Linked DNA regions of Homo sapiens: all the other regions are linked to region 1. Evidence: fine-mapped expression QTL. A gene starts in region 1. Each other region holds a variant in brackets. All regions are shown on one strand. Distances are from middle to middle. Region 1 holds the start of ITGB1 (integrin subunit beta 1). Region 2 overlaps CCDC7 (coiled-coil domain containing 7). Region 3 holds the start of ITGB1-DT (ITGB1 divergent transcript).

Region 1 (2,766 bases):
GATGAATTCTGAACAATGGTAAAACCGATACCTTTAAAATTCAAGAATGTTGAGTTCTAATGGCAGTTTGACCATTGAGATATTAATATAGGAACATCATTTAGCCTCTTAAGCTTGAACATCCATTAAGTGGGAAAAATAGTGCTCATTTCCTAGAGGTCTTCAGATTGGCTAATCAAGTTTTGATTTTGCTGGTAAGTAATGAGCAAATTTTCTTAGATGTGATCGCTTCATTTTCTCTTATATTGATTGGCAGCAGCCAAATGGGCATTCCAGTCCCTAATCTCCTGCAAGAGAAACACTTCTATTTCATAAATCTGGTAATTTTTGAGCTCTTTTCCCAACAGGGTGCTGCAGCTCACCAAGCGGAACCCACAGCATTTTCTGCTACCAGGATAGCAGCTTGCCAGTAGCATATACTAAATTACTGGGTTTCAGTATGATTTTGGCTGGTACAGACTTCAATCATCGAATCGACATGCGTTCAGCCATTCTCATAATGAATGTTTCCTTCTCTTTCAAACGTTGTTTCCAGCCCCAATCTCCAAATTTTTTTTTTTTAAGAGGTGAAACAGAAACTGTACTCCTTAGGAAGAAACTTTTCCTTCTCATCCCTGTTCCCCATAAAGGTACCTCCAGATAAATCTATCAAAAGCAGGACGCAACTCACCAGGTTTTCTAAAACGTTCCCCAGTCTCACCACCCTTCGTGACACCCATGGGTTTCCCAATTCTTCACCTTTCTCTTAGACACAGGCAAGCACATTATCACTCCAGAAAAGCAGTCCTGGCTTAGCCAGTTCCCTTCCAGAAGGACCACGTGGTTTTTGGCCCCATGGAGCCCTGCAGGGTAGGGGGGCTCACGGTCCCGATTTGCCTCGGGACTCAGGGGGCTTCCGAGATGCAGGATCTCCCGGGCTCGAAACGGGACATCAGTGGACAAACGGGAGCGAGGGTCGAACGCGCGGCTCCGAGGAAGAGGAACTTAAAGAACACGGGCCCAGCAGGCTACACCAGGAACGCGCGGGGCTCTAGGGCGCGTCCGACTCCTCCCGCCCTTCGCAGAGGAGGAAACTGAGGCACGGCGACTGTCTCAACGCAGTCCCGGCCCTGCCCCCCGCGGCCTCCCTCAGGCGCGCTCCCGCGCAGCCGGTTCCTTTGTCCCGGTCGCACTTCCTGCCCCATCCTCCGCCTCCTCCTAGCCCCGGGCCGGGCTGACGCGGCGGGAGAGGAATGCGTTTCCGGAGGGAGAGGGCGGCGGCGGCCTCGGGAGCGGGATCAGACGCGCAGAGGAGGCGGGGCCGCGGCTGGTTTCCTGCCGGGGGGCGGCTCTGGGCCGCCGAGTCCCCTCCTCCCGCCCCTGAGGAGGAGGAGCCGCCGCCACCCGCCGCGCCCGACACCCGGGAGGCCCCGCCAGCCCGCGGGAGAGGCCCAGCGGGAGTCGCGGAACAGCAGGCCCGAGCCCACCGCGCCGGGCCCCGGACGCCGCGCGGAAAAGGTAGGGGCCGGCGGGCCTCGGGTGTGGGAGCGCGGGCCGCGGCCTCCGGTCTCCTGTGCGCGGCAGCACTTAAAGCCGCCGGCCGGGCCGCGCCGGGACCTTTGTGCCGGGCGTGGGGGTGGGGGCGGGGGCGGGGGCGGGGGCGGCCGCCAGCGGTTGGGGGCTGGGGCAGGATTCCAGGCTAGTCCAGGAGGAAGTCCGCACGCCGCCACCCGCCTCGGGTCCCCGGCGCTGGCAGCCCCCGGGCGCAGAGCCAGCCCAGCCGCGTTCCGAACGTGAGGGTCGCCGGCCTGGGCGCTGTCACGTCGGGGCTGCCGGAGCTGCGGGGGACCGGGCCCGAACGGCCCCTGACACCTGCGGTCTCCCGCCGGGCTGGGCAAGCGCAGGTGGGAGCCAGCGAGGCCACCCGGGGCTCGGCGTTTGGGACTCGGCGCTCCCCTGGACGGGTCCGGTGCCTTTGTCTCTCGCTCCCTCGCGAGCTGCTGTCCTTGGAGCAGCGTCGAGCCAGCCGTCGGCGCCCGCGACGGGGACTGGTCTCCTCCGGCTGCCAGGAGGCGGCCCTGGGGCCAGCGCCGCGGGCGGGGGCGGCGGGAGCCGGGTAGAAGTTGGCTTAGTGGAGCCGCTGGGGACCGGGGGTGCGGTGGCGGCAGTGCAGTCCACTTCCCCGTGTTTATAAACGTCAAGAGTCGCCGGTCCCTGCCGGGCACCCCGGGACCAGGACGCATGGCCATGGCCAGCTTGTGCTCAGACCCGGTCCGCGAGCCTGAGAGCCCGGCCTGTGTCTAGTATCATTTTACCGCGTGTCATTTCTTAGGCTTCATAAATTGGATTTATGAGACTCCTACTCTCTAAGTAACTTTTATTTAATCAAATTCGTGCTTTTGAGTCCAAAACTTTGCACTCATTGGTATGATCATTAGTAAGTTGCATTCTCTAAGCTTCCGTTTCCTCATCTGTGAAATAGGAACAGTAATATCTACATTAATAATTCATTTTTATAATAATGACAGTGAGGGCCAAGTTTAGCTCTAGGCATTTTACATGTATTATTTAATTCTGGAACCGCTCTAATGAGATTGGTACTGTTTCGATTCCCATTTTCCGAGTGAAGAAACTGAGGCACAGGGAGCAAAAGTAAGTTGCCTGTGGTCATCAGGAGCTCCTGGAGAAGGCATGGGGTCTAGTTCCAGAGTCCGCGTTTAAACCACAAGTAACCTTCCTAACTATAGTTCTGAAAATCAAATGCAAAATGTAAAAAACTTAGCTTGA
Region 2 (2,766 bases), 320 kb after region 1:
AATACCATTCAGGACATAGGCATGGGCAAGGACTTCATGTCTAAAACACCAAAAGCAATGGCAACAAAAGCCAAAATTGACAAATAGGATCTAATTAAACTAAAGAGCTTCTGCACAGCAAAAGAAACTACCATCAGAGTGAACAGGCAGCCTACAGAATGGGAGAAAACTTTTGCAATCTACTCATCTGACAAAGGGCTAATATCCAGAATCTACAATGAACTCAAACAAATTCACAAGAAAAAAACAAACAACCCCATCAAAAAGTGGGCGAAAGATATGAACAAACACTTCTCAAAAGAAGACATTTATGCAGCCAACAGACACATGAAAAAATGCTCATCATCACTGGCCATCAGAGAAATGCAAATCAAAACCACAGTGAGATACCATCTCACACCAGTTAGAATGGCGATCATTAAAAAGTCAGGAAACAACAGGTGCTGGAGAGGATGTGGAGAAATAGCAACACTTTTACACTGTTGGTGGGACTGTAAACTAGTTAAACCATTGTGGAAGTCTGTGTGGCGATTCTTCAGGGATCTGGAACTAGAAATACCATTTGACCCAGCCATCCCATTACTGGGTATATACCCAAAGGATTATAAAACATGCTCCTATAAAGACACATGCACACATATGTTTATTGCGGCACTATTCACAATAGCAAAGACTTGGAACCAACCCAAATGTCCAACAATGATAGACTGGGTTAAGAAAATGTGGCACATATACATCATGGAATACTATGCAGCCATAAAAAAGGATGAGTTCATGTCCTTTATAGGGACATGGATGAAGCTGGAAACCATCATTCTCAGCAAACTATCGCAAGGACAAAAAACCAAACACCGCATGTTCTCACTCATAGGTGGGAATTGAACAGTGAGAACACATGGACACAGGAAGGGGAACATCACACAATGGAGACTGTTGTGGTGTGGGGGTAGGGGGAGGGATAGCATTAGCAAATATACCTAATGTTAAATGAGGAGTTAATGGGTGCAGCACACAAACATGGCACATGTATACATATGTAACAAACCTGCACGTTGTGCACAGGTACCCTAAATCTTAAAGTATAATAAAAAATAAAAAATAAAAAAAAGAACTAAATGAAAACCAGATCTGTGGTGTTAAGTACTATACTTGCAATATATGCTAATGACTCAATAATACTGTCTCACTTCACATGATATAAGCAAATCACACTTTGTGGTAATAAACTATTAGTAGAGACCAACTAGTTGAAGTATAAGCTTTATGCTACTTTTTAGATACACAGAGGTGTCTTTAGAATAAAGTTTAAAATATTTGGTATCATTTGTCCAAGGAAAAAATATGTAATGATATTAAGTAATAGGGCATAAAGAAGAGTAAAAGAAACTTACCAGGCAGATAAAATAGGAAGGACAAAGAAATGGTATACTTAAACATAGAAATTATCAATAATAAGACTAAATGTGTTTAGGAGAGCTAATTAAAAGACAAAAATATTAGACTGAATTTGAAAAATATACAACTATGAGCTTCATGCAA[G/A]AGATACAGAAAAAAAAAACACAAAGAGGAATGTTAAGTTACCAGGATGAAATATAAAATGTATCATGCAAATACCAATCAGAAGAAAGTTGGTAGATTTACATTAATAGCAGATGTGATAGTTTTGTTTGTTTGTTTGTTTTGGGTTTTGTTTTGTTTTGTTTTTGTGGCAATGAGGGTCTCACTTCATTGCCCAGGCTGGTCTTGAATTCCTGGCTTCAAGAGATCCACTCACCTTTACCTCCCAAAGTGCTGGGATTATGGGGAGACATGATAGTTTTTAAGGCAAACAAACAAAAGCTATAAAAATGATAAAGCAGGTCCCTTCATTAGGAAAAAGTTTATTTCTTCCAGTAAGATTGTTAATTTTAAATTTATATGTACATTAATAATAAAATGTCATAAGATATAAAGTAAAACCTGACATTATTATAAAAAGGAACAAGGAAATTCACAATCATAGTGGAAAAATTAACACATCTAATTCAGTAATTATAGAGACACCAGTATAGATCTAGAAGTATACACAAAATAATTACAAAAAAAGTTGTAGATATATTCATGAACCATAAAAAAAGCTGTTTAATATAATTGAAAATAATTTTATAACATTTTAAACTTACTACTTACAATGAAAACTCTCATTTCTGGTAGCTTTAAGATTTTTAGTTTCAGATTGGATTCTTGAAACTAAAACCATGTCCTCAGGCAATTGTGGGGTTGTAAGAGTCTCTGAACAGAAAAACAGATCTATGATAAAACTTCTGTATATGTCAAGTAATCAGCAATACTTCCTCTCATTTGTGTAAAATTAATGGAATAGGACTAGGAAGTTACAGCAGTGAGGTATTCGTTAAAATAGACCGTGGATGCGAAGCAGAAAATTCTCATGTGTGGAGGCAATCTTGTTACATGGTAGTCACTGACTATGCAAATACCAATCAAAAGGTATTAAAGCTTTCACTTTAGTTCTCTAGTTATTTTGCAGTATTCACATTTAGGTCAAAGTATAAAATTTCTACAAATTATATGTTCAAATATTCATGATGCAAAGAAAAAAGACCTCTGATGAGTTAACTTAAAATAGTGTGAAGGGCCAAGTGCAGTGGCTCACACCTGTAATCCCAGCACTTTGGGAGGCCAAGGTGGGTGGATCACGAGGTCAGGAGTTCGAGACCAGCCTGATCAACATGGTGAAACCCCGTCTCTACTAAGGATACAAAAATT
Region 3 (2,766 bases), 25 kb before region 1:
GGAAGCTGAGGAGGACGAATCCCTTGAGGCCAGGAGTTTGAGACCAGCCTGGGCAACATGGCAAAATCCTGTCTCTACTTAAAAATACAAAAATTAGCTGGGTGTGGTGGCACGCACGTAATCCCAGCTACTCAGGAGGCTAAGGCATGAGAATCACTTGAACCAGGGAGGTGGAGGTTGCAGTGAGTCCAGGTTGAGCAACAGCACTCCAGCCTGGGCAACAGAGCAAGACTCTGTCTCAAAACAAACAACTTTCCACTTTGTTCATAATAGCAATATATGTTCATTACAGAAAATTTAGAAAATAGAGAAATACAAAGATGAATATACAGTAAAGGCATAAATCAGCTATATTCCCAATCCTACAACCCAGAAATAATTCATTCTTTCTCTCTCTCCCCTCCCCCCAATTTCTCTCTCTCTCTTATTCTACATGTATCCCATTAGTATACTTCTAGTGGTAATTAAGAGAAAACCTGGACTCAATATGCAATTGGTTTAAACTATAAGAAAAAATTAGCTCACATAATAAGTTTGGAAATAAGATGAGTTATTTAGCTGGACAACTCATCAAAAGTCAGTCTTCAGTTACTCAACAAGGAACTAGAATTGAGACAATTTTAATATTCCTTAAATGCTTTTATGAAGACAAAATGAAAATCAGTCAACAATATCTAAATAGTTAAAAGAAGCGAGTAAATCCAGCAAATCAGCCGTAGTGGAAACTGATTTGCAGTGGGTGGGTGTTTGTTGAACTGGCTCTTGGTCACTGACCTGCAGCCTCCAAGGCTAATAAGTCAACAGATCAGCAGATCAATCAGCTGGGGCCTTTGCATTTTTCCACATTCCCAGGCCTGTCAGCTCAGCCTCAGGCCTGGCTGCATGGTGGCTTTATCACATGTAGAGTCTAACATTTAATGGAAGCATGACTTTGTTTCCTGCTTTTAAAGATAGAGGGAAGCTTTTCCTAACATTTAATGGAAGCATGACTTTGTTTCCTGCTTTTAAAGATAGAGGAAAGCTTTTCCAGAAGCCTCTCCACTCTCATCCACCTCACTGGCCTGGAATGAATTATACTCCCCGGACTCAGAAGATCACTAGCCAGGGGAATTCACATTCACCACTCACTGATGATTCACTCCCCAGGGCAGGGCTGGTGACTGCCTCCCCTGAAGCACACTGCTGTGCAGAGAATAGAAAGCCCACCAAAATTAAGAGGTGTTAGGAAGGAGAAGGGAAGTGGTGTGGGTAGGAAGTCAACAGTTTCTGCCACCATATCTTTTTGACTTAA[A/CACA]TTTAAATTTCTCCATGTCCATATATAGTTTTTGAAAACATGATTTTATCTGAAAACATAATTGCATGAAAGCATCAAGTTTATTTAACAAGTTCCCTACTGTTAGGCATTTAAGGCAATTCAATTTTTCACTATCATCAACCACTTAGAATTTTGCCCTAAAACTGCCAAATTAATGTCCCTAAATCCATTGACTTGAGTCATGCTGTTTCTCTTACTGAATAAGTATTAACATTTACGGTTGAAGATGACTTTAACTTTGCTTATATGTCATCAGTGAATCAATACATGAATTTTCAAGAAATGCTAGATTTGTCCAATACATACATATGTCCTTTTCCAATCTTTATTATTAGCTTTTATGTCTCCTCACTTTCCCCCTGTCTAGAAGAGCTCTTGGCAAATTCATTTCAAGAAACCTTTGCTGATAATTTTGCCAGGTCCTATAAGGACCCAATCTCTGCCTTCAGGAGCTTATAATTTAGTAGTTTTTCTTGAATTAGCTCTCAGTAGGCAGATCACTTAAGGCCAGGAGTTCGAGACCAGTCTGACCAACATGGCAAAACCCTGTCTGTAATAAAAATACAAAAATTACCTGGGCGTGGTGGCGCATGCCTTTAATCCCAGCTACTCGGGAGGCTGAGGCACAAGAATCGCTTGCATCTGGGAGGTGGAGGTTGCAGTGAGCCAAGATCGCACCACTGCATTCCAGCCTGGGTGACTACAGAGTGAGATTCTGTCTCAAAAAAATAAACAAAAAAACCCACAAAACTCTCAGTAGATAAAGATACGTAGACGACCAGGACTGTCTGATTCATACATCTGTTTAATATTTACTGAATATCTATTATGTGCCAGGCCCAGATCTAGAATCCAGGGATGGCCAGGCACGGTGACTCATGCTTGTACCCCCAGAATTTTGGGAGGCCAAGGTGAGAGGATCACTTGAACCTAGGAGTTCGAGGCAGCAGTGTGCTGTGATCATGCCACTGCACTCCAGCCTAGGAGACAGAGCAAGACCCTATCTCAAAAAAATAAAACAGACTAGAATCCAGGGGTGCAATGCTTTTAGGGAACTTAGTAATATTCTTAGGTAGTGAGAAAGAAGCCCAAGTGAATCTTTCAAGTTGTTCTTCCTACCTTTTATTCTCAAGCCCTTTGTCACTTAGAAAGGAAACATCTGGTCTTTTCTGCCCTTATCTGAATCCTTTTGAGAGAATAATTCATGTAGATTTTCTCACCTTTGGCCTTGTCACTGTCGTCATAGATAATGTGGCTATTTCAACAAAGGGCTAGGCTTAGCCAGAGAATGTAATTTTACAAACTTTATTTCCTGATGCAGCCTGCAGCTCACAAACAAGGCAGGAAGTGCTGCTCACAGTGAACTTGGCTGGCTGTGGCTGCAAATAAAATGGGAGCCTTCAAACATTGCTGACCCAGCGGCCAGATCCTATTCCCTGGGGTCCTGGCCCTAC

What was found. PIP is the estimated chance that this variant, and not a neighbour inherited with it, causes the effect.
Region 2: its variant is fine-mapped to the expression of ITGB1 in whole blood (TOPMed, PIP 0.95).
Region 3: its variant is fine-mapped to the expression of ITGB1 in whole blood (TOPMed, PIP above 0.99).

Annotation. Positions count from the first base shown.
Region 1 is chr10:32,956,876-32,959,641 of GRCh38, reverse strand. It overlaps ITGB1 (integrin subunit beta 1), which reads left to right and starts at 1,412. Exons shown (of 16, transcript NM_002211.4): 1 at 1,412-1,497. RefSeq lists an enhancer at 840-889 and silencers at 1,060-1,639, 1,710-2,159, 2,553-2,714.
Region 2 is chr10:32,634,562-32,637,327 of GRCh38, reverse strand. CCDC7 (coiled-coil domain containing 7) reads right to left here. Exons shown (of 44, transcript NM_001395015.1): 21 at 2,170-2,271. Among named protein-coding and RNA genes, the nearest start is that of CCDC7, 190 kb to the right of the region's middle. The variant G/A (reference allele first, on the strand shown) is at 1,540.
Region 3 is chr10:32,981,806-32,984,571 of GRCh38, reverse strand. It overlaps ITGB1-DT (ITGB1 divergent transcript), which reads right to left and starts at 2,021. Exons shown (of 3, transcript NR_184020.1): 1 at 1,887-2,021. The variant A/CACA (reference allele first, on the strand shown) is at 1,292.